3 linked regions of the Homo sapiens genome follow. The protein of the gene in region 1 interacts with the protein of each later gene in a biochemical or structural test. Each region holds a gene or a part of one and is shown on either strand. Other genes may lie near its edges.

Region 1 (7,505 bases):
AGGCCGAGGTGGGCAGATCACTTGAGGTCAGGAGTTTGAGACCAGCCTGACCAACATGGTGAAATACCATTTCTACTAAAACTACAAAAATTAGCTGGCAGGTGGTGTCCGCCTGTAATCCCAGCTACCCAGGAGGCTGAGGCAGGAGAATCACTTGAACCTGGGAGACGGAGGTTGCAGTGAGCCCAGATCACACCACTGCACTCCAGCCTGGGCTACAGAGCAAGACTCCGTCTCAAAAAAAAAAAAATTAATCTTAAAAAATACTCTGTGGCCCTAAAGCAAAGTCCACACTTCATAATCATAAATAATAAATTTAAGTTCAAGGATTAAAGGAGTGAATTTTAGAATGTGAACTGGCTAAATCCACTGGGTATTCTCTCTCCAAGAAAGAAGGGTTCTTCATTTGGCAAAACATGTCAAAAATGCCACTGAGATTTAGACTAATTAAAAATTCAATCTGGGGATTAGAATTCAATACTACATACATATCAGGAACATTCAACGTATAAGGTATTGTGAATACATTAGCTTTTCAAATTATATTTAACCTGAGTTGAAGGATTAATGAGCTGGGCGCAGTGGCTCATGCCTGTAATCCCAGCACTTTGGGAGGCTGAGGCAGACAGGTCACCTGAGGTCAGGAGTTCAAGACAAGCCTGGCCAACATGGCGAAACCCTGTCTCCATTAAAAAATGCAAAAATTAGCCAGGCGTGGTGGCAGGCACCTGTAATCCCAGCTACTTGAGAGGCTGAGGGAGGGAGAATTGCTTGAACCCAGGAGGCAGAGGTTGCAGTGAGCCGAGATCACATCACTGCACTCCAGCCTGGGCGACTGAGCGAGACTCCATCTCAAAAAAAAGGATTAATGAAAGGCAGCTGGGGTGGGGGCAGGCTACTCTATAACACTAACTCAGAAACAGCTGGGGTGGGGGAAGGCTATTCTATAACACTAACTCAGAAACAGCTGGGGTGGGGGAAGGCTATTCTATAACACTAACTCAGAACTCACTTGTAATTAACGACATTCTTTTCTTATAAACCTTTTCACAGGAATAACCAGAGGCATCTTTTCAGTATGGCCAACTCCTTGTCATTCCTATATATCCTTCCTTCCTTCTATACAAAGCTCTTTTCTTCCTACTAGTTTTCTTGACTTCAGTTCTGTTCAACTCCCTTTTCTTCACATTATCCTTAGCAGTGTTCAGATTATAAAATCTCCTTTCTCAAATAGTTTCACTGGATCTTTAACTATAAATATCAAATGCAGTCCATCATCAGTTTTAAGGTTCTGGAATCTTATTCTCCCAGGGAGCAGGTTTTTAATTCTTCAGCTAGAAAAGTACTTTAAATGGCTAGAGGACTTGGACTGATTGGATAGGGTAAACTTCGCTGCTGAATGGCATAGGCTTATAAAATACAACCAATAATGTCTTAGATTTGGATGTTAAATTCAGATTATTGAAACTAGATTCAGGTCCAAGCACCGTGGCTCACGCCTGTAATCTCAGTGCTTTGGAGGCCAAGGCAGGGGTTCTGCTTCAGTCCAGGAGTTGGAGACCAGCCTGGGGAATATGGCGAAACCCTGTCTCTACCGAAAAAATACAAAAATTAGCTGGGAGCAGCCGGGCGTGGTGGCTCACGCCTGTAACCCCAGCACTTTGGGAGGCCGAGGTGGGCGGATCACAAGGTCAGGAGATTGAGACCATCCCGGCTAACATGGTGAAACCCCATCTCTACTAAGAATACAAAAAATTAGCGGGGCGTGGTGGTGGGCACCTGTAGTCCCAGCTACTTGGGAGGCTGAGGCAGGAGAATGGCGTGAACCCGGGAGGCAGAGCTTGCAGTGAGCCGAGATCGCGCCACTACACTCCAGCTTGGGCGACAGAGCAAGACTCTGTCTCAAAAAAAAAAAAAAAAAAAGAGCTGGGAGCCTGAAGCAGGAGAATCACTTGAATCCCAGAGCGGGGCGGAGGTTGCAGTGAGCCAAGATCGTGCCATTGCACTCCAGCCTGGGCAACAGAGTGACACTGTCTTAAAAAAAAAAAAAGAAAACTCAATAAAAGCTCACAGTAGTTAAACTCACTAAAAGTTACCTACAAGATACTATCACACTTTTTCTCAGGTAACATGTTTGAAAATTGGGAGTAAGAGTTTGTTTCTTAAATCACACTAAGAAAAAGATATGCAAAATCAAGCAAACTGAAATATCTATAGATAGAAAAGGCATCCTATCATCCTGTTTCTGACAGTAAATGGTATGTGTCAGCAAGACTTGAAACCAAACTTCCCAACACAGAAGAATCTTTTAAAAATATATTACAACCATGAAGATAAGCTAAATAGCTACAAATAATTTTTTTTTTTTTTAAATACAAGCTAGCTGGGCGTGGTGGCTCAAGCCTGTAATCCCAACACTTTGGGAATCTGAGGCAGGCAGATCACAAGGTCAGGACTTCAAGACCAGCCTGGCCAACATGGTGAAACCCCGTCCCTACTAAAGATATAAAAACTTAGCCAGGAATAATGGTGCGTGCTACTCCAGAGGCTGAGGCAGGAGAATTGCTTGAACCTGGCAGGCGGAGGTTGCAGTGAGCCGAAATCGCACCATTGCACTTCAGCCTGGGTGACAGGGCGAGACTCGTCTCAAAAAAAAAAAAAAAAGAAAATACAAGATAATTACAATCTTTGCAATACTCTGTGCCTAATGAAAATGGTTTTGGCTGGGCAAGGTGGCTCACGCCTGTAATCCCAGCACTTTGGGAAGCCGAGGAGGGCAGATCACTTGAGGTCAGAAGTTTGAGACCACCACACCAACATGGTGAAACCCCGTGTCTACTAAAAATACAAAAATAGCCAGGCGTGGTGGCACACACCTGTAACCCCAGTTACTCAGGAGGCTGAAGCAGGAGAATCCCTTGAGCCTGGGAGGCAGAGACTGCAGTGAGCCAAGATCACAGCATGGCACTCCAGCCTGGGTGACAGAGCTAGATTCTGTCTCAAAAAAAAAGAAAAGTAAACAGTTTTAATTAGTGACATCAGACTACAATTTTTATTTTACTTCAAACTAAGATATCTGCCTTGTCAGGGACTTCCCAGAAAATGGATACAGCAAGTGGACTTTTTTGTCACTTATTAGAAAAATTAAGTAAATTAATATAATACCACACAAAACCTCTCATCACAAACAAAACACCTACTTTGCATTAAACAATTTAATACATGCAAGTATTGAATTTAGTCACCTAAAGGAAACAAAACTTCTGATAAGAAGCAGGAAAATTCAGAGACAATATGAAGACCCTAAATCAGGAGACTAATTTGAGTAATAATAAAACTGTGGTCTCCCACAAAAAAAAAGATCCTAAATCAAACAGTTCTATTTAATTTCAAATTTCAATTGCATATATATAATAAGGACTCAATTTTTAATAACTCCTTACCTATATACATATGCCAGGTCCTGTTCTAAAATCTTCACTTGTCCCATTTAACCTCCACAACAATTTTCACTTTACAGATGAGTAAATTAACTTGTCCAAGTCCAGGCAGAACAGGGATCCAAACTCAGGCTGACTCCATTACACTACAATGTTTTCCTAACAACTATCCTATCAACTATCCAATCCTATCAATGTTTCCATTTCTATTCCCACTGATTATATTAAGCATCTAGGATAAAGCAAATAAGGATAAAATAAAAGTTAAAAACTTGGTGACTTCTGGAATGATTTAAATATTCGACCTCTAAATATCCCTCCTTTTCAAATCTGAGAACACTCCAGCTATCAGATACCAGGCAGGACATACTTATTTGGGACAGAGTATCACAAAGAAGCTACCAAAACAAATAAAAACAATACTATCATATAAACCATGGTATAGCAAACAATGACCTGTGGGCTGGGCCAAATTCAGACCTTGGTCTTTTTTCATACAAGCTAAGAATGGTTTTTACATTTGCTAAAGGACTTTTAAAAACAAAACAAAGGACAATTTACCACAGCAAAGCCTAAAAATTCACTATCTGTGTCCCTTTCAGAAAAAGTTTACTGACCCCTGATCTAAGCTACTGATAAAGAGGTTTCCTTCCCCTTTTTAAAAATAGCTAAGCAGTGGCTCATGCCTGTAATCCCAGCACTTCGCGGGAGGCCAAGGCAGGTGGATGGATCACTTGAGGTCGGGAGTTCGAGACCAGCCTGATCAACATGGAGAAACCCCATCTCTACTAAAAATACAAAATTAGCTGGGAGTGGTGGCGCATGCCTGTAATTCCAGCTACTTGGGAGGCTGAAGCAGGAGAGTTGCTTGAACCCAGGAGGTGGAGGTTGCAGTGAGCCAAGATGGTGCCGTTGCACTCCAGCCTGGGCAACAAGAGCGAAACTCTGTCTAAAAAAAAAAAAAAAGCTAAATGCGCCAGGTGCAGTGGCTCACGCTTATAATCCCAGCACTTTGAGAGGCCGAGGAGGCCAGACCACGCAGTGAGGAGTTCGAGACCAGCCTGGCCAACTTGGTGAAACCCAGTCTCTATTAAAAATACAAAAATTAGGCCGAGTGTGGTAGCTCACACCCATAATCCCAGCACTTTGGGAGGTCAAGGCAGGTGGATCAGGAAGTCAGGAGTTCAAGAACAGCTTGGCCAAGATGGTGAAACCCTGTCTCTACTAAAAATACAAAAATTAGCTGGGCGTGGTGGCACGTGCCTGTAGTCCCAGCTACTCGGGAGGCTGAGGCAGAGAACTGCTTGAACCCAGGAGGCGGAGGTTGCAGTGAGCCGAGGTCGCACCATTGCACTCCAGCCTGGGTGACAGAACAAGACTCCATCTCAAAAAAAAAAAAAAAATACAAAAATTAGCTAGGCGTGGTGGCCTGCGCCTGTAATCCCAGCTACTCAAGAGCTGAGGCAGGAGAGCTGCTTGAACTCGGGAGGCAGAAGTTGCAGTGAGCCAAGATTGTGCCACTGCACTCCAGCCTGGGCAACAGAGCAAGACTCTGTCTCGGGGGGGGGGGGAAAAAAGCTAAATGCAGGAACTGACTTGTAAGACAAACTATATCTAGGAGGATTAAAGGCGGAGTCCCTTAGCTCTAAACCAGAAGATAAATGTCTGAAGCATACTACCCACACCACCCCACCCCACCCCCATCCCGGGACAAAAAGGGCAAAAATAAGTGGTTTCCTCTCACCAGGAGGTGGCAGTAGGTTCTGGTTTGCCCATGGACTCAAGTTTTTTGTAGTGGTTACTAAGAAAAGCAAGCAGCCTGACCTCTCCAAAGAGCTGACTTTCTGTGCCTGACAATCTGAACAAAAAGGAAATGGAAAAGGAAGACAGGAACTAACCACATTCTCTTCAGTTACCTATTCACTCTCAACTAGAAAAATGACACCATTTCTGGCCGGGCGAGGTAGCTCATGCCTGTAATACCAGCACTTTGGGAGGCCGAGGCGGGTGGATCACAAGGTCAGGAGATCGAGAACATCCTGGCTAACACGGTGAAACCCCGTCTCTGCTAAAAATACAAAAAATTAGCCGGACGTGGTGGCAAGGCACCTGTAGTCCCAGCTACTCGGGAGGCTGAGGCAGAAGAATGGCGTGAACCCGGGAGGCAGAGCTTGCAGTGAGCAGAGATCGTGCCACTGCACTCCAGCCTGGGTGACAGAGCGAGACTCTGTCTCAAAAACAAAACAAAAAAAATCAGCCGTTTGTGGTGGCGCATGCCTGTAATGCCAGCTACTCGGGAGGCTGAGGCAGGAGAATAGCTTGAACCCAGGAGGCAGAGGTTGCACTGAGCCGAGATTGCACCATTGCACTCCAGCCTGGGCAACAGATGCAAAACTCCGTCTCAAAAAAAGAAAGGAGAAAAGAAAAATGACACCATTTCCTAAATGCATCTAGGCAAAAAGGTAAAGGGGTAGGGGAGAAGGCAAGTAAGAATGATCAGCTTGCATTATTCAGGGCTGTTCTTCATATTTGCTTCTACAATTCTTAAGAGTTATTACCCTTATAACTCTTCAGTTATTTGAGCAAGACAATGAATTTGTCTGCACAACTTCATGCAAGATGACATTTTAAAGATCAGAATTTGGGCCGGGCGCGGTGGCTCACGCCTGTAATACCAGCACTTTTGGGAGGCTGTGGCGGGTGGATCACCTGAGGTCAGGAGTTTGAGACCAGCCTGACCAACATGGCGAAATCCCGTCTCTAAAAATACAAAAATTAGCCGGGCGTGGTGGCGCATGCCTGTAATCCCAACTACTTGGGAGGCTGAGGCAAGAGAATGGAATGAACCCAGGAGGCAAAGGTTGCAGTGAGCCAAGATCGAGCCACTGCACTCCAGCCTGGGCCACAGAACGAGACTCCATCTCAAAAAAAAAAAAAAAAATTAAAAAAAAAATAAGTTAAAGAAGGAAAGTAGTAAACTTACAGCATTTCCCAGGAGAGCTAAACCCAGAAGTCAAAACAGGAAATTACAAGTCAAATGAACACATGCAGAAGTCATAGGTACTGGGTGACTGTACTAGCCAAGTTGCCCTGACAGGCACTGGCAAACATCCATTAACTAACAGCGCCAGACCTCTCATTGTTTCTTACTCCAACTTTCTGCTATACTACCAAAAGCTTAATTTTTGCCCAGAAACCCTTGGACACTTAATCAAATAACATTAGTATAAAACATGCCATGTCATGAAGCTTGCTTCATGATGACTCAGCAGCTTCTGCAAAACATCCAGTTGACAGCCTAGGATAATAAACAGCAAGTGGGTAGACCCTATGTCCACCAAAGCCTCAATAAGGACTAAAGAAAGTCCTTATTTTTAAGATTAAAAAAAAAAAAAAGGAGAGTATTCTTTTGAATATACCTGAATACTTTCCTTGGGTAGTGGTAGTTTCTGCCAATATTAAATAGCACCTACAGTGTTGATCAAGAAACCCCTAAATACCTTTACTTCCCAATTCAAAAGCTAAAATATGTTTTCTTTTTTAATTAAATAGGACAAGAAGCAAAAGTATTTTAGATAAGGGGCAATGATAAATTATCAAGATTTAAAACAAAACTACACAGCCTGAAGTCGTATCAACTCTAAGACACCTTGGATCATAGGTGTTATGCTGTTAAGACATCATCTCCCCAAAATTAGATTTTTATTTTATCTAAGTACATTTAAGCTGTGATCAGGGGCCGGGCGCGGTGGCTCACGCCTGTAATCCCAGCACTTCGGGAGGCCGAAGCGGGGAGATCACGAGGTCAGGAGATCGAGATCGTCCTGGCTAACATGGTGAAACCCCGTCTCTACTAAAAATACAAAAAATTAGCTGGGCGTGGTGGCGGGCGCCTGTAGTTCCAGCTACTCTGGAGGCTGAGGCAGGAGAATGGCATTAACCCGGGAGGCGGAGCTTGCAGTGAGCCAAGATCGCGCCACTGCACTCCAGCCTGGGTGACAGAGCGAGACTCCGTCTCAAAAAAAAAAAAAAAAGCTGTGATAACTTCAGACATCTGGAAAATAT
Region 2 (7,505 bases), on another chromosome or scaffold:
ATAAGGGAAGCACAGGTGGGGTGAAGGGTCAGGTCAGAAAGGACAATAGTAATAACTACGGCCGGGCACAGTGTCTCATGCGTATAATCCCAGCACTTTGGGAGGCTGAGGTGGGCAGATCACGAGGTCAAGAGATCGAGACCATCCTGTCCAACATGGCGAAACCCCTTCTCTACTAAAAATACAAAAATTAGCTGGGCGTGGTAGTGCGCACCTGTAGTCCCAGCTACTCGGGAGGCTGAAGCAGGAGAACCACTTGAACCCAGGAGACGGAGGTTGCAGTGAGCCAAGATTGCGCCACTGCACTCCAGCCTGGTGATAGAGTGTGACTCCATCTCAAAAAAAAGTAATAACTACTAATCCACTGATAGCATCTGTATGCCAGGCCCCAGGCCAAGCACTTTGTAAGTCACTTCAGTTTACTTCCTATAGCACCACTATGAGACGGCTATTACTAACCCCATCTTACAAATAAAGAATCTGTCTTAGAGGTAATGTTACTTGTCCACAGCCCCGCACAACCAAAACTAGGATGGAAACTAAGAACTGCCTGACTCCAAAGTCCTCCTAATCCCCAGGCTTTTCCCACATCCAGACAGGACAGGTGGAGAGGTAGGCCAAGCCAAGACGGCTTGGGGGCAGAATGGGAGAAGGAGCTCAAAAAGAAAATGGGAGAGAAAGTAGCTGGGAAGCTAAGAGTGCTGAGGAAAATTCCAGCTGGGGGTGGGACCACGCTACAAACTCGGGACTCTAAAGATTCTTACCTTCCTTGAAGACTCCATTGACAGAAAAACACAGCAATGTGCTCTGAAAGAGAAGCAGCATCAGGTACAATGTACACTTCTCAGAGCCTGAGTGCCCCCCCTTGCCTATTAAATGCCACCCCCACCCCAATTCTAGGCTTCTGTCAGGCGCAAGCAGGAGCTTACTGTCTGGGCGCTTATGTCTACCACGAAGGAATTGACGTCGTGCTGGGTTTTGGGCAACTCATTGAGGAAGGCAACAACGTTGAGACGCGTGTGCTTCAGCAGCCGGAACCGCAAGGCTGTGGGTAGAGGAGAAAGCTCAGTGGTGCTGCCACACACTCCTGAGTTCTGACTGATTCCTTCCCATGCCCTTTTCCCATATTTTGTTCGTATCACACACTTACTAGGGTCTTTAAGCTTCTTCACATTTCTGCTATCCTTGAAATACTCGGCTAAGCTGCTTCTGGGGGAATAAAAGGAATGGACGTGGTGTTCAGAGCAGTGCTGCCAGCAGGTGTGCCCTGTATCTGCTGGGAAACCCAGTGGTCCCGGGCAGATTCTGGGATGTGATACTAACCGGGCAGGGTTCTGAGGAATGAAAGGAATGCTCAGGGAACAGCAGGCCCCATCATGGTAGGCATCCAGGAGCCCTTGTCGGTCTCCAGAGTCGTAAATTGCATAGTACCTATGGGAAAAACAAAAAAGAAAGTATGGGCTCTGTGGTCTACAGCCATACAAGGACCCAGTAGCTCCCAAGAGTGAGTTGTGGCCGGGCATGGAAGCTCATGCCTGTAATCCCAGCACTTTGGGAGGCTGAGATGGGTGAATAGCTTGAGCCCAGGAGTTCAAGACCAGCCTGGGCAACATGGCGAAACCCTGTCTCTACTAAAAATACAAAAAAAATGGCTAGGTGCGGTGGCTCACGCCTCTAATCCCAACACTTTGGGAGGAAGAGGCAGGTGGATCATGAGGTCAGGAGTTGGAGACCAGCCTGGCCAACATAGTGAAATCCCATCTGTACGAAAAATACAAAAATTAGCCAGGTGCAGTGGCACACACCTGTAGTCCCAGCTACTGGGGAGGCTGAGGCAGGAGAATCACTTGAACCCTGGGAGGCAGAGGTTGCAGTGAGCCAAGATCACACCATTGCACTCCAGCCTGGGTGACACAGTGAGACACTGTCCAAAAAAAAAAAAAAAAACAAAACAAAAAACAAAACAAAAAGATTGATGTGTGCCTGGGTCTGCCCACCATTCCCCCTCAACCTCGGGGTGGGGAGGGGGGACCCTGGGATACTTACTGTTGCAGGAAGTGCAAGACCAGACTCTTCAAGTTTTCTGTTCCAAAATAGCTTCCCTGAAATCAAACAGGTATTAGGAACATGGAAGCAGTATTCTCTCCACACACAAGTTCTTACTCTGTCCATGCTTCCTACCTTGCAGGGCGGTAACGTCGTGGGGGCTTCAACATCAAAGGCAATTGGTGGGGGTAGCTCATGGCCATCCTGTGGAAAGGAAGTAAAAGTTGACAGTGTAGACTGGGCCCAGTGGCTCACACCTGTGATCCCAGAACTTTGGGAGGCCGAGGCAGGCAGATGGCTTGAGCTCAGGAGTTTGAGACCAGCCTGGCTGGACAACGTGGCAAAACCCATCTCTACCAAAAAAAATACAAAAATTAGCTGGGCATGGTGGTGCGTGCCTGGAGTCCTAGCTACTTGGGAGGCTGAAGTGGGAGGATCACTTGAGCCTGGCAGGCGAAGGTTGCAGTAAGCTACGATTGTGCCACTGCACTCCAGCCTGGATGACAGAGCCAGACCCTGTCTCAAAAAACAAAACAAACAAAAAAGAAAGTTGACAGTTTAAACCAGAGAGAAAAAGGCTGGGTGCATAAGTAGACTGAAGAACTAAGAGAGAAGGGTCAGAAGTCAAGTGTAAACGCATCATGAAAAGTATCCAGGGATCCAGGCTGGGCGCAGTGGCTCACACCTGTAATCCCAGCACACTGGGAGGCCAAGGTGGATGGATTAGTTGAGGTCAGGAGTTCAAGACCATCCTGGCCAACAAGATGAAACCCCCATCTCTACTAAAAATACACAAAGAAATTAGCCGGGCATTGTGGCACATGCCTGTAATCCCAGCTACTCAGGAGGCTGAGGCAGGAGAATCACTTGAACCCAGGAGGCAAACGGTGCAGTGAGTCAAGATTGCACCACTGCACTCTGGGTAACAGAGCAAGACTCCATCCAAAAAAAAAAAAAAAAAGGGCCTGGTGCGAGTGGCTCACGTCTGTAATCCCAGCACTTTGGGAGGCCGAGGTAGGTGGATCACCTGAGGTCAGGAATTCAAGGCCAGCCTGGCGAACATGGTGAAACCCTGTCTCTACTAAAAATACAAAAATTAGCCAGGTGTGGTAGCACATGCCTGTAATCCCAGCTACTTGGGCTCAGGAGGCTGAGGCAGGAGAATCGCTTGAACCTGGGAGGCAGAGGTTGCGGTGAGCTGAAATCATGCTGTTGCACTCCAGCCTGGGCGACGAGTGAAACTCCGTCTCAAATAAAAAAAAAAAAAAGAAAAAGAAAAAGAAAAAGAAACCTATCCAGGAATCCTTGTGAGTGAGAGATGCTGTGCTTGTTAGAATGAAAAAATTATGGACTTACCAGGCGTAGTAACTTGGGAAATCGTTCGCGAATGGCGCTGTCAAGAACGGGACAGAAGTGAGTGATGCTTCAGAGCCACCGTGCCTCCTGGGCTGCTCTAGGAGCAAATATACCAAACCCGAGGGACAGCCCATCCCATCCTGCTCATCCCTCCACTCCCTCCCAGCCTGTGCTCAGGGAAAAATGGCCCCCACTCCCCACCTGACCCGGGGCACCCAGACATGGACTGCCTTGAAGGCTGTCTCTTTTCTCTCTGCCTGACCCTGAGTGTCAAGGAGCAGTACTCCAAGCCCAGGCTTTAAGCCCAGGACCTCTTTCCCCTCCCTGCCCCCCTTACCTTCCACCTACTCACCTGTGCAGCCCCGGGAGGAGGGAATGGGGTGGGAGCCCAGGGGCTCCGCTGCCTCACCAGGTATCCATCAGTTCTGCCAGGTCTGGCTTTGGCCAAGACCCAAACACACCACAGGGATGGCACAGGATGTTGGGGCAGGGAGATGAGCAGGTGGGGCTCAGGAAGAGGAGAGGCAAAGGAATAAGAAAGGAAAAGGAGGAAAAAGAGAAAAAGGCAAGATGGGGCAGGGGCAAGGGAGAGATGGGGAGGTATAGGAGACAGACAGAAAAAGGAAAGAGAAAGCAAAGAAAAAGAGAAAGAACTACAAGGCAAAAAAGCATCTAGAAAAATGAGGGAGAAAAGGGAGAAAGACACCCTGACACAGCCCTTTCTTTCAGCTGCCCCATCCCTGTGGTCCAAGGTAGAAATGAGAAACAAATCCTTGCTGTGGTGAGTGGGCACTTGCTGTTGGCCAGGTCTCTGTCTGCTACCTGGGTCCCGATCTGAACTGGGCGTGGGAAGCAAAGCAGCCATGGGGGCAGGAGACCTCCCTCAGAAGGTGTGAGGGTTCAGGCCCCTGTAGGATTGTGGGGGTGAGGGTCCATGCCCCACCTCTGTTGCCCCCAAGTTCTCTCCTGATGGCCCCTCTGCGACTGTGCCTGTCTTAGGTTGTTCCTTCCCTGAGGAATCTTACCCGTCTCTGGCTAACCAGCCATCCACCGGGGCCAAACAGGGTGACGTGCAGTGTGTGAGTGAGGGAGAGGCAGCGCCCCCGAGGGGGTCAGTTCTCTGTCTCCTTGGTAGCCTATGCCCCCGTGGCCTCCACGCCCAGCACCTGCCTTGGGATTCCCTCGCCTGCTGGCGGGGCCCCAGCTCTGGTCACATCTTGGGGAACCCAGGTTTCTTCTTCAGGGAGAGCCCAGCTCATAGCACTGGGCAAGAGAGACAGATTGCATGCCACCAGCCCCTAGGAGGCCTCAACCTCAGCATGGACAGCAACAGCCCTGGGCAAGTGGATCCTGAGAAAAGGGTCCCTCTTGGCGCAAGGGCAAGAGGGGCCATCACAGTACAAAGGAGGGAAGGCCCATCTCAGTAGGAAGTCCCAGGTAGGGAGGGCTTCCTCAACCCATGGACACCAGGCTCTTGGCACAAGGCAACCCCATCTATAGGGTATGTACAAGATACCCTCTGGTTAGAGTAGAAAGGGGAGATGCCTTTCCTGGAACAACAGGGTAGGGAGATTCTAGAAAAGGTTGTGTTCAGGAAGAAAGAGAAAGGCCACAGACCCAGCAAACAGATAGTCAAGTCAGAAGAGAAGAGAGAACATCTCAGGACAAAGCTGGAAGACACAGACAGACCAAAGTGGGGAGCACGCGATCCTCTCAAAGGACAGGTGGTTCCAGCTCAGGGCTGCACATCTCCGCAGACGGGCCCTGGTCAGGATGCATTAGCTCAGCCTCCCAGGGGGTGAAGGTCCCCAGGAGGGGAGACACAGGCTACAACTGACCTGATGTAGGTGGACTGGTCTCGGAAGGTGTCACACAGGGAGTTTCCATCGAGCCAGAGCTCTTCTAGCTTCAGCCCCTTTATCTTGTCCAATTCCCGCTCAGACTTCAACTGCAAAGGGTGGAAGGAACAAAGGGAGGAGACCCTGGTGAAGACAGCCAGCTGGCTCCCCATACCCCCAGTCCCTACGCTTAGCTCTGAGATCTTTTCTAATCTTTTAAAATTTTTTCTTTTTTTTTTTTTTTTGGGACAGGGTCTCACTCTGTCACCCAAGTTCAGTGCCGTGGCATGATCATAGTTCACTGCAGCCTCAAACTCCTGGACTCAAGAGATCCTCCCACCTCAGACTCCTGGGTAGCTAGGACTACAGGCATGTGACATCATGCTCGACTAATTTATTTTTTAAATTAAAAAAATTTTTTTGAGACAGGTTGCTCAGGCTAGAATGCAACGGCACAATCATAACTCACTGCAGCCTTGAACTCCTGAGCTCAAGCAATCCTCCCACCTCAGCCCCCTGGGGCAGCTTGGACTAGAGGCGTGCAAACTCCTAGCCTTAAGTGATCCTCCTGCCTTGGCCTCCCAAAGTGTTAGGATTAGAGTTGCAAACCAGCACATCTGGCCTGAGTTCTCTCTCTTGCCTCTTGCCATCACTGGACAAACTCTCTACACCCTCTACCCACCCCTTCAAAAATATAGCCGAGCTATCAATTCTCACTTCATTTCCAGAAAGGTTTAGGATCTTCAGGTTGGGTGCCTTCTGAACAATGCTAGACATGTCATCCAGCCTGTACAGCCTGTTGTTGCTCAAGTTCAAGGACAATAGCTGTGAGGAGAGAAGAGTTTAGAGGAGGCACCACCAGCAAGTGGATCAGAGACGAATCTGCCCTCCAGCCACTTCCTATCTAACACACCCTGCTTCCTCATGCCTAATACTGGGCCAAAGGCCTTACCTCAGGGATGTTCTCTTCAATGATCCTCAGGGTAGCTGCCATACAGCTTCTGCGATTCAGGACAACGTCAATGTTCTGGGCCACCAAATCTTCAGGAAGCAGAAGGGAAGGAAAGGGAAGACTGAGAGGGTTTGCCCATGCCAGCATTAGCAGTAAAACATCCTCAAACTTTCCCTCCCTGACAGATCCCACCTTATCACCACCTATCTGAGAACTACTGCTGTCAACCATACCTGGGTCTGAACGGAGGCCTTTGAGGTCAAGGGCTTGTTGGGAGCCATCGTATCGTTTGCTCATGATCAGCTAGAGGAAAAAGAAGGGTTTAGTGGTCACTGGGTTTGTGTGTGGGGGGTGGGGGTGTGAGAAGTAGTAAGACTGGGTTGGAAACATCTAATTTGAGCCTGCCTCACCTTTAGCTGTTCTACTTGTTCTGGCTTCAGTTCATTCAGTATAGTGTGGGGTGGAGCAGAAGAGTTGATGATGATAGATATCTGGAGGGAAGACACAGAGGGCACAGAAAACTCTAGGGAAGCCTAAGCCGCAAGAACAAGACCCAGTCCCTGCTCTGAGCACCAACCTCCACCTCCAGCCAAGCCAGGCCCTTTAAACACACCCTTCGGTTCTCCCGATCCAAAATCTTATAGTTGACAGCCTTCAATGCAGAGGCAGTACTGGCGTCTTCAACGAAGAACTGGGCCCGTGTATTCTCATAGTGAAACTACAAGAGGAAACAGGAGCATTACACTGGGAGTCCAGAGCCCTTGGGGAGGGGCATTACGCTGGGAGTCCAGCTTGCCCCTTCACCATCCCTGGTGCCTGGCCAGCCAGCCACTCAGGCCTTGTCTTACCTCAATAGGGGTGAAGGGCACACTGCACTTGCTCTGAATCATGCTCAGGAGCCATGCCTTGTCATACTTTCTGCCATAAGGAATCTAGAAATGAGAGAAAGAGAAAAGAAGGGAATGATAAGTAAGGCTGAATAGCAGACCCAATACAATGCCTTTTATACCTTCTACCAAACTTTTAAAGACTATCTAAAGAAAGGACCAGTACTAGGTTTTCTACTTGAGATACACATAGATTCTTTAACTCCTTTCTGTCTACTTACACTTACTATTTTTTCTTAGTAACAGGGCCTCACTCTGTCACTCAGGCTGGAGTGCAGTGGTGCGATCATAGCTCACTGCAGCCTTCATTTCCTAGGCTCAAGCGATCCTCCTGTCTCAGCTTTCTGGAGTAGCTAGGACTACAGGCATGTACTACCATGCCCGGCTAATTTTAAAATTTTCTGTAGAGAAGGGGTCTTGCTGTAT
Region 3 (7,505 bases), on another chromosome or scaffold:
GAAGGAAGGAATATAAATTATCCATAAAGTGGCTGGGTTTTAAATTATAGGATAGTGACACAGTATACTACATAGCTGAATGAACTGCAAACCTGTTAACTGGTGGGGGGGAAGATTACAAAAGAATCATGGGCCCCGGCATGGTGGCTCACGCCTGTAATCCCAACTTTGGGAGGCAGAGACGGGAAGAATACTTGATGTCAGGAGACCACCCTGGCCAACATGGTGAAACCCTGTCATTACTAAAATTAGCCATGCATGGTGGCACAGGCGCCTGTAATCCCAGCTACTTGGGAGGCTGAGGCAGGAGAATCACTTGAACCTGCATGGCGGAGGTTGCAGTGAGCCAAGATCACGCCACTGCTCTCCAGCCTGGGTGATAAAAGCGAGACTGTGCCCCCCCAAAAAAAACAAAAAAAATGGTGTGATACCTTACAGTAAATAGTCTTCAATGTGATTATTATGCATTGTATGCTTCTACCGAAGTATCTCATGCATCCCATCCCCTAAGTATATACACCTACTATGTATTCACACAAATTTTGTTCTCTTTGTGATAGAGTCTTGTTCTGTAGCCCCAGCACATTATCTCAACCTCTTCCTCCAAGATGCAAGCAATTCTCCTGCCTCAGCCTCCCCAGCAGCTGGGATTACAGGCACCACCACATCTGGCTCATTTTTTGTATTTTTACTAGAGACGTAGTTTCACCATGTTGCCCAGGCTGATCTCAAACTCCCAAGCTCAGACAATCCACCTGTCTCGGCCTCCCAAAGTGCTAGGATTACAGGCATGAGCCACTGCACCCAGACACTTTTTTCTCTTTTCTTTTGAGAGGCAGTCTTGCTCTGTCGCCCAGGCTGGCGTGCAGTGTTATGATCTCAGCTCACTGAAACCTCTGCCTCCTGGGTTCAAGTGATTCTCCTGCCTCTGCCTCCCGAGTAGCTGGGACTACAGGCACCTGCCACCAGACCTGGCTAATTTTTGTATTTTTAGTAGAGATGAGGTTTCACCATGTTGGCCGGGCTGATCCTGAACTCCTGACCTCAACTGATCTGTCTGCCTCGGCCTCCCAAAGTGCTGGGATTACAGGTGTGAGCCACTGTGCCCAGCTAAAAATTCTTCATATGCCAAGATACCAAGAAAGATGTTTCTCCTAAGGCTAATTAATAACTGTCATTAAATTAAGTTTAGTTATATTATCATTGACTTCGTAGCTATCAGTTAACTTTTTTTTTTTTTTTTTGAGATGAAGTTTCACTCTTGTCACCCAGGTTGGAGTGCAATGACGTGATCTCGGCTCACCGCAACCTTTGCCTCGTGGGTTCAAGCAATTCTCTTGCCTCAGCCTCTCAAGTAGCTGCGAATACAGCTGTGCGCCACCACGCCTGGCTAATTTTTGTATTATTAGTAGAGACGGGGGTTTCACCATGTTGGCCGTGCTAGTCTCAAACTCCCGACATCAGGTGACCCACCCACCTTGGCCTCCCAAAGTGCTGGGATTACAGGCATGAGCAACTGCGCCCAGCCTAGGTAACTTTCATTAGTTTTTTAAAAATTGGCTAATATTTTTACAGTAAAAAAAAAAAACCTTTGTATTTTGGAGAAAATATTTAAGAGCTAAGAGACTAATTCTTATTCAACAATCATGGATAAACTATTCATCAACTACTTAGGGTTTCACAGTACTTCCAAATTTCTTTAAAGCAAGATGTTCAAAGAAAAACCCTTCCCAAAAGTATGAATAAAGCACTGTATAACAGCAGAAGAAAGACATTCTATCTAGTAACTTTCACAAGTTCCCTCAACTAACAAAATTGGTATAAAATTATAAAAAGAACTACCAACGTTTTTCTTACCCAATATTCCATTATACATTTAAGACTACCTAAAATGAATTACATTAGTAATAAGTTTATCCGAATAACATCTCAAACATATCTATCCTTATTGGACTTTAGTTTTTCACTGTATTACCAGTCTCAGGTTTTTTGATTACAGAGATTGTGTAAACGTATTATCTTGAAACCCCATTTATTTGGCATGACAAATCAAGTGATAAAAATTCTACAATGTAACATAAAAGTGGTCACATCTACCCCTAATATTTCTGCAAGAGCAAATAAATACATACCTTTATTTGAACTAGGAAATCTCTTAAATGTTCCTTGAAAGCAGGAATATCTTGATTTAAGCTGAAAAGCCCTGTCACAAAGAGCTTTACTTGAGCACTGCAAATCAAAACACAATGATTAAATAATGATTTATTTTTCCCCCGAGACAGAGTATTGCTCTGTCACCAGGCTGGAGTACAGTGGCATGATCTCTGCTCACTGTAATCTCTGCCTCCCGGGTTCAAGACATTCTCCTGCCTCAGCGTCCCAATAATGTTTTTTTTTTTTAATCAAGAATTTTTTTTTAATTTTTGAGACAAAGTTTTGCTCGTTTACCAGGTTGGAGTACAATCGCACAATCGCGGCTCACCGCAACCTCTGAAGCTATTCTCCTGCCTCAGCCTCCCAAGTAGCTGGGATTACAGGCATGCACCACCATGCCCGGCTAATTTGTATTTTTAGTAGAGACAGGGTTTCTCCATGTTGGTCAGGCAAATCTCAAACTCCTGACCTCAGGTAATCTGCCCGCCTAGGCCTCCCAAAGTGCTTGGATTACAGGCGTTTGCCACCGTGCCCAGCCTTTTTATTTTTTGAGACAGTCTTGCTCTGTCACCCACACTGGAGTGCAGTGGCACAATCTCGGCTCACTGCAACCTCTGCCTCCTGGGTTCAAGCAGTTCTCCCCCTCAGCCTCCCAAGTAGCTGGGATTTCAGGCACCCACCACCATGCCCAACTAATTTTTTGTATTTTTAGTAGAAACGGGGTTTCACCATCTTGGCCAGGCTGGTCTTGAACTCCTGACCTTGTGATTCACCCACCTCAGCCTCCCAAAGTGTTGGGATTACAGTCATGAGCCACCGTGCGTGGCCTTTTTTTTTTTTTTTTTTTTTTTGCTTTTTTAAAGAGGCAGGGTCTCACTCTATCACCCAGGCTGGTGTACAGTGGTGCGATCATAGCTCACTGCAGTCTTAAACTCCAGGATGCAAACAACCCTCTCGCCTCAGCCTCTCCAACAGCTGGTCCTACAGATGCATACCACTTCTGACTACTTTTTTTTTTGTAGAGACGGGATCTTGTTTTGTTGTCTAGGTTGGTCTCCAACTTTTGGGCCCAAGCAATCCTCCCACCTTAGGCTTCCCAAAGTGCTGGGATTACAGGTGTGAGCCACTGTGCCCGACCAGGAACATTCTACGTTTATTAAAAGGTATATTTACTCTTGTAGGTGAGGGAAGGCCGACTTAAGGAGATTAGCCACATATTCCTGAAGAAAGATTTGGTTGTTAACTGGATTTCCAGGATTTAATGATGTACTTATTTTTCCTTCTTCAACCAAATTAAACATATATGCAAGAATTGATGCATGCATTGTTAAACCTGTTGATAAGAAGAAAATTATTAACTCCAAAATGTAATATAACTATAGATCTTAGCGTTTTTTTTTGTTTTGTTTTTTTTTTTTAGACGGAGTCTCGCTCTGTCACCCAAGCTGGAATGCCGTGGCGCAATCTTAGTTCACTGCAACCTCTGCCTCCTCGGTCCAAGCCATTCTCCTGCCTCAGCCTCCCGAATAGGTGGGATTGCAATCACATGCCACCATGCCCAGTATTTTTATTGTATCTTTTATTTTTTTATGGTATTTTTAGTACAGACAGTTTCACCATGGTGGCCAGGCTGTTCTCGAACTCCTGACCTCATAATCTCCCCGCCTCGACCTCCCAAAGTGCTGGGATTATAGGCGTGAGGCCCTGTGCCCAGCTGGCACTTAACATTTAAATCGTATTAAATTCTTACCAGCAGTATGTGAAGTGTCTGTCACAACAGAAAAGATATGCTGGAGAATATCACAAAAATAAGTTTGATAAAAACTCTGAGCTGCAGCTTCTTCTTGTGCAACATTTTGTAAGAGTGTAAAAAGTATCTGTAAGCCTAAAAGACATAGAATACCAATGGAAAGTTACTACAGACTGACAGCACTCATGATAGTATTTAGCTCTTATCAAAGTATTCTGAATCTAACCCTGTTCTCCCTTTTTTTTGGGATGATGACTAATAATTACTTGCATAAGGTTTCTTAAATTAATAATGGAATACAACTATATCCAATGCTGGCTTACTTATAAATTATAATAAGTTGTGTGAGAGCTAAACTGTGAAGATGTAAAGGCATAAAGATCATATAATGGACTTTGGGGACTTGTGGGGAAGGGCAGGAGTGGGTGAGGGATAAGACTACACATAAGGTGGAGTTCATACACATGAGGGATAAGACTACACATAAAGTAGAGTTCATACTGCTCACATGACAGGTGCACCAAAATCTCAGAAATCACCACTGAAGAACTTATTCATGTAACCAAAAACCACCTGTTCCCCAAAAACTATTGAAATAAAAAAAGAACCTCATGAATATTTTTTAAAAGCCTATGGGAAAAAAATTACAATCTAAGTTATGACTATTACCACCCTTTCACCATTTCTGAAAGCTCAGCTGATTCTATATGAACTTCTACAACATCACTACCCAGTAGAACTTTGTATTACGCAAACCAATTATTACTAGGCCGCTCTCCCCATAACTCAATTCTGCCTATGGACTCACTTGGAGTGGAGTGGAACAGTTGATTAAACTGCTTATAGGATTTTCTCAGATGTTCATATATGTAATTCACACACTCAAAACTCTGAACAAGTAATACCTTCCTATGTACAATTAACTATATTTGTATTTTTGGATTGGCAGGCAAATGAATAAAAGAACATCTTTTATTTACCCGTATCTGCGACATTCCTCATAGTATGTTTGAAAGCCCAAATGATGGAATCCAAAACAAGTTTAAACTGTGTAGGTGGAATAGCAAGGAATGCTGGGAAACAATGAGAATTGACAGCCTGAAGTAGTAAGAAAAAGTTCGTTCTATGTTCAGGATATTCTTCAAAGTCCTAAAAATAAGTGGTGGAAACAAAATAATGTTTCAGTGTCTTTGTTGTGCTAGACAGGAGGGGAAAAGCAAGGCTTAATCCAGTATAAATATTTGGAGTTTTCAATAAACCACAGAAGATAGAATGCCTCCTGAAAGGTAAACCCAAGTAAAATACAATCCACCTCTCACGGAAAATGAAACTGTCCCGTTACGCACATGAGTTATCAAATTGAAGGAGAAAGACAACCTTTTTAATAGAGAACTCATCTAAACCATTATTACCATAAGACTACTACTATCACTTTTGTTTTTAATTTGAAATCACCACTACAGATTACAAAAAAATTTAAGTTACCGTGTAAATGTGTCCACTTAACGTATCTTTTATCTCTTTTTTCTTTTTAAACAGTCTCACTCTGTCACCCAGGCTGTAGTGCAGTGGCGCAATCTCAGCTGACTGCAACCTCCGCCTCCTGGGTTCAAGAGATTCTCCTGCCTCAGCCTCCCGAGTAGCTGGGACTACAGGCATGCGGCACCATGCCCAGCTAATTTTTTTTCTTTAGACAGAGTCTTGCTCTGTCACCCAGGCTGGAGTGCGTGGCGCGATCTTGGCTCACTGCAAGCTCCGCCTCCCGGGTTCATGCCATTCTCCTGCCTCAGCCTCTCCGAGTAGCTGGGACTACAGGCGCCCACCACCACACCCGGATAATTTTTTGTATTTTTAGTAGAGACAGGGTTTCACCATGGTCTCCATCTCCTGACCTCGTGATCTGCCCACCTCGGCCTCCCAAAGTGCTGGGATTACAAGCGTGAGCCACGGCACCCAGCCTAATCTTTGAGTAGAGATGGGGTTTCACCATGTTGGTCAGGCTGGTCTTGAAATCCTGACCTCAGGTGATCCACCGGCCTCGGCCTCTCAAAGTGTTGGGATTACAGGTGTTGAGCCACCACGCCTGGCCATTTTTGTATTTTTAATAGAGATGGGGTTTTGCCACGTTAGGCAGGCTGGTCTTGAACTCCCGACCTCAGGTCATCCGCCCGCCTTGGCCTTCTGAAGTGCTGGGATTACAGGTGTAAGCCACCATGGCCAGCCTATTTTCTCTTGTTAACACATTTTTCAGTTTCTTATAAGCATATACTACACTTTTATAATTGAAACATGCAGACTTACTTTCTCATTTATTCAAACCAATTAATACAACTACGTTCATAAAAGGATGCCCCGACCTATGAGGTTTCAATAAATGCTACATACCATGTGAATGCTAAAATCTGTTTTCCATATTTACTTTTTACCAATCAAGATTCTGTGTAGTAAATTCTTCTTCTTGGAGTGCAGTGGCGCAATCTCAGCTCACTGCCATCTTGAACTCCCAGGCTCAAGTGACCCCCCCCCCCACTTCAGCCTTTCGAGTAGTTGGGACTACCGGCACATGCCACCATGACTGGTTACTTTTTGAACTTTTTGTAGAGATGAAGTCTCACTATATTGCCCAGGTTGGTTTCAAACTCCTGGGAAGTAAGTTCTTGAAAACCAAGAAAGTATTTCCCTAATATACAAGTTTAAATATTTAAACTCCATGGCATTAAAATTATGTTATATCCACAGACATACTTTAGCTTTCAAGAATTAAGGCTATCCTGCAGAATTTCCCCCTTACATAACTGAAATATTACACACCTTATTTATCATATTCAATGTGCATTCAAAAACAGCATCAAATATTTGAGGTATTTCAGCTGTTATATGTCCCCCTAACTTGTTGACAATTATGGCCATAGTACTAAGCACTTCTGGTTCTCTAGCAGCTGGGACATTTCTCTGATAATCAATGAGAACTGCATCCAACAGAGGGGGAACAAAATTTTCAGCGACCTGTTGGGGAGGGAAAAAAAAGTTATGTTTTAATTTAGGTACATGGTGACTATTTTAAACAACAAGGTTATTCCTGTCTATGAGATGTAGCATGATCATCTACTGAAAACAGGAAAATCTTGTGTTTGTATTAGGGTTTCCTACGTCAAAACAGTTTTTAGCAAAAGAAAGCAGGAAATCACAATGGGTTGGGAAGTCTCATGGACACACTGTCATTCAAGACTTTTTTTTTTTGAGACAGTCTCACTGTCACTCAGACCAGAGTGCAGTGGCAAATCTCTGCTCACTGCAACCTCCACCTCCCAGGTTCAAGCAATTCTTGTGCCTCAGTCTCCTGAGTAGCTGGGACTATAGGTATAGCACCATGCCCAGCTACAAAACTCTCACAATAAGAAAAGTGAGGCTCAAAATTCAGTGGGTGTCTCCAACTTAGGTGGCAGAATCAGGATTCTACGTATACTGTATATGTAAGATGGCAGCAAGCGAGCCCTCAATACTGTCTTTTTATTTTTGAGACGGAGTCTTGCTCTGTCGCCCAGGCTGGAGTGCAGTGGTGCCATCTTGGCTCACTGCAAGCTCCGCCTCCAGGTTCACG

Evidence for each region.
Region 2: the proteins of NUP153 (region 1) and NXF1 form a complex in vitro, tested with the Homo sapiens proteins (2 studies listed by BioGRID and IntAct).
Region 3: the proteins of NUP153 (region 1) and XPO1 form a complex in vitro, tested with the Homo sapiens proteins (one study listed by BioGRID).

The regions. Positions count from the first base shown.
Region 1 is NC_000006.12:17,696,834-17,704,338, forward strand, and holds part of NUP153 (nuclear pore complex protein Nup153), read right to left. Parts: intron 1-7,505. UniProt on the Homo sapiens protein: Component of the nuclear pore complex (NPC), a complex required for the trafficking across the nuclear envelope. Functions as a scaffolding element in the nuclear phase of the NPC essential for normal nucleocytoplasmic transport of proteins and mRNAs.
Region 2 is NC_000011.10:62,795,137-62,802,641, forward strand, and holds part of NXF1 (nuclear RNA export factor 1), read right to left. Parts: intron 7,125-7,505; coding exon 7,041-7,124; intron 6,911-7,040; coding exon 6,806-6,910; intron 6,684-6,805; coding exon 6,603-6,683; intron 6,496-6,602; coding exon 6,426-6,495; intron 6,282-6,425; coding exon 6,193-6,281; intron 6,066-6,192; coding exon 5,958-6,065; intron 5,351-5,957; coding exon 5,241-5,350; coding exon of another isoform or gene 5,186-5,240; exon of another isoform or gene 3,440-5,185; coding exon 3,403-3,439; intron 2,251-3,402; coding exon 2,182-2,250; intron 2,103-2,181; coding exon 2,047-2,102; intron 1,432-2,046; coding exon 1,324-1,431; intron 1,210-1,323; coding exon 1,151-1,209; intron 1,046-1,150; coding exon 930-1,045; intron 808-929; coding exon 765-807; intron 1-764.
Region 3 is NC_000002.12:61,479,053-61,486,557, forward strand, and holds part of XPO1 (exportin-1), read right to left. Parts: intron 6,911-7,505; coding exon 6,716-6,910; intron 5,054-6,715; coding exon 4,885-5,053; exon of another isoform or gene 4,040-4,884; coding exon 3,905-4,039; exon of another isoform or gene 3,575-3,904; intron 3,488-3,574; coding exon 3,328-3,487; intron 2,230-3,327; coding exon 2,133-2,229; intron 1,532-2,132; exon of another isoform or gene 1,273-1,531; intron 1-1,272. UniProt on the Homo sapiens protein: Mediates the nuclear export of cellular proteins (cargos) bearing a leucine-rich nuclear export signal (NES) and of RNAs.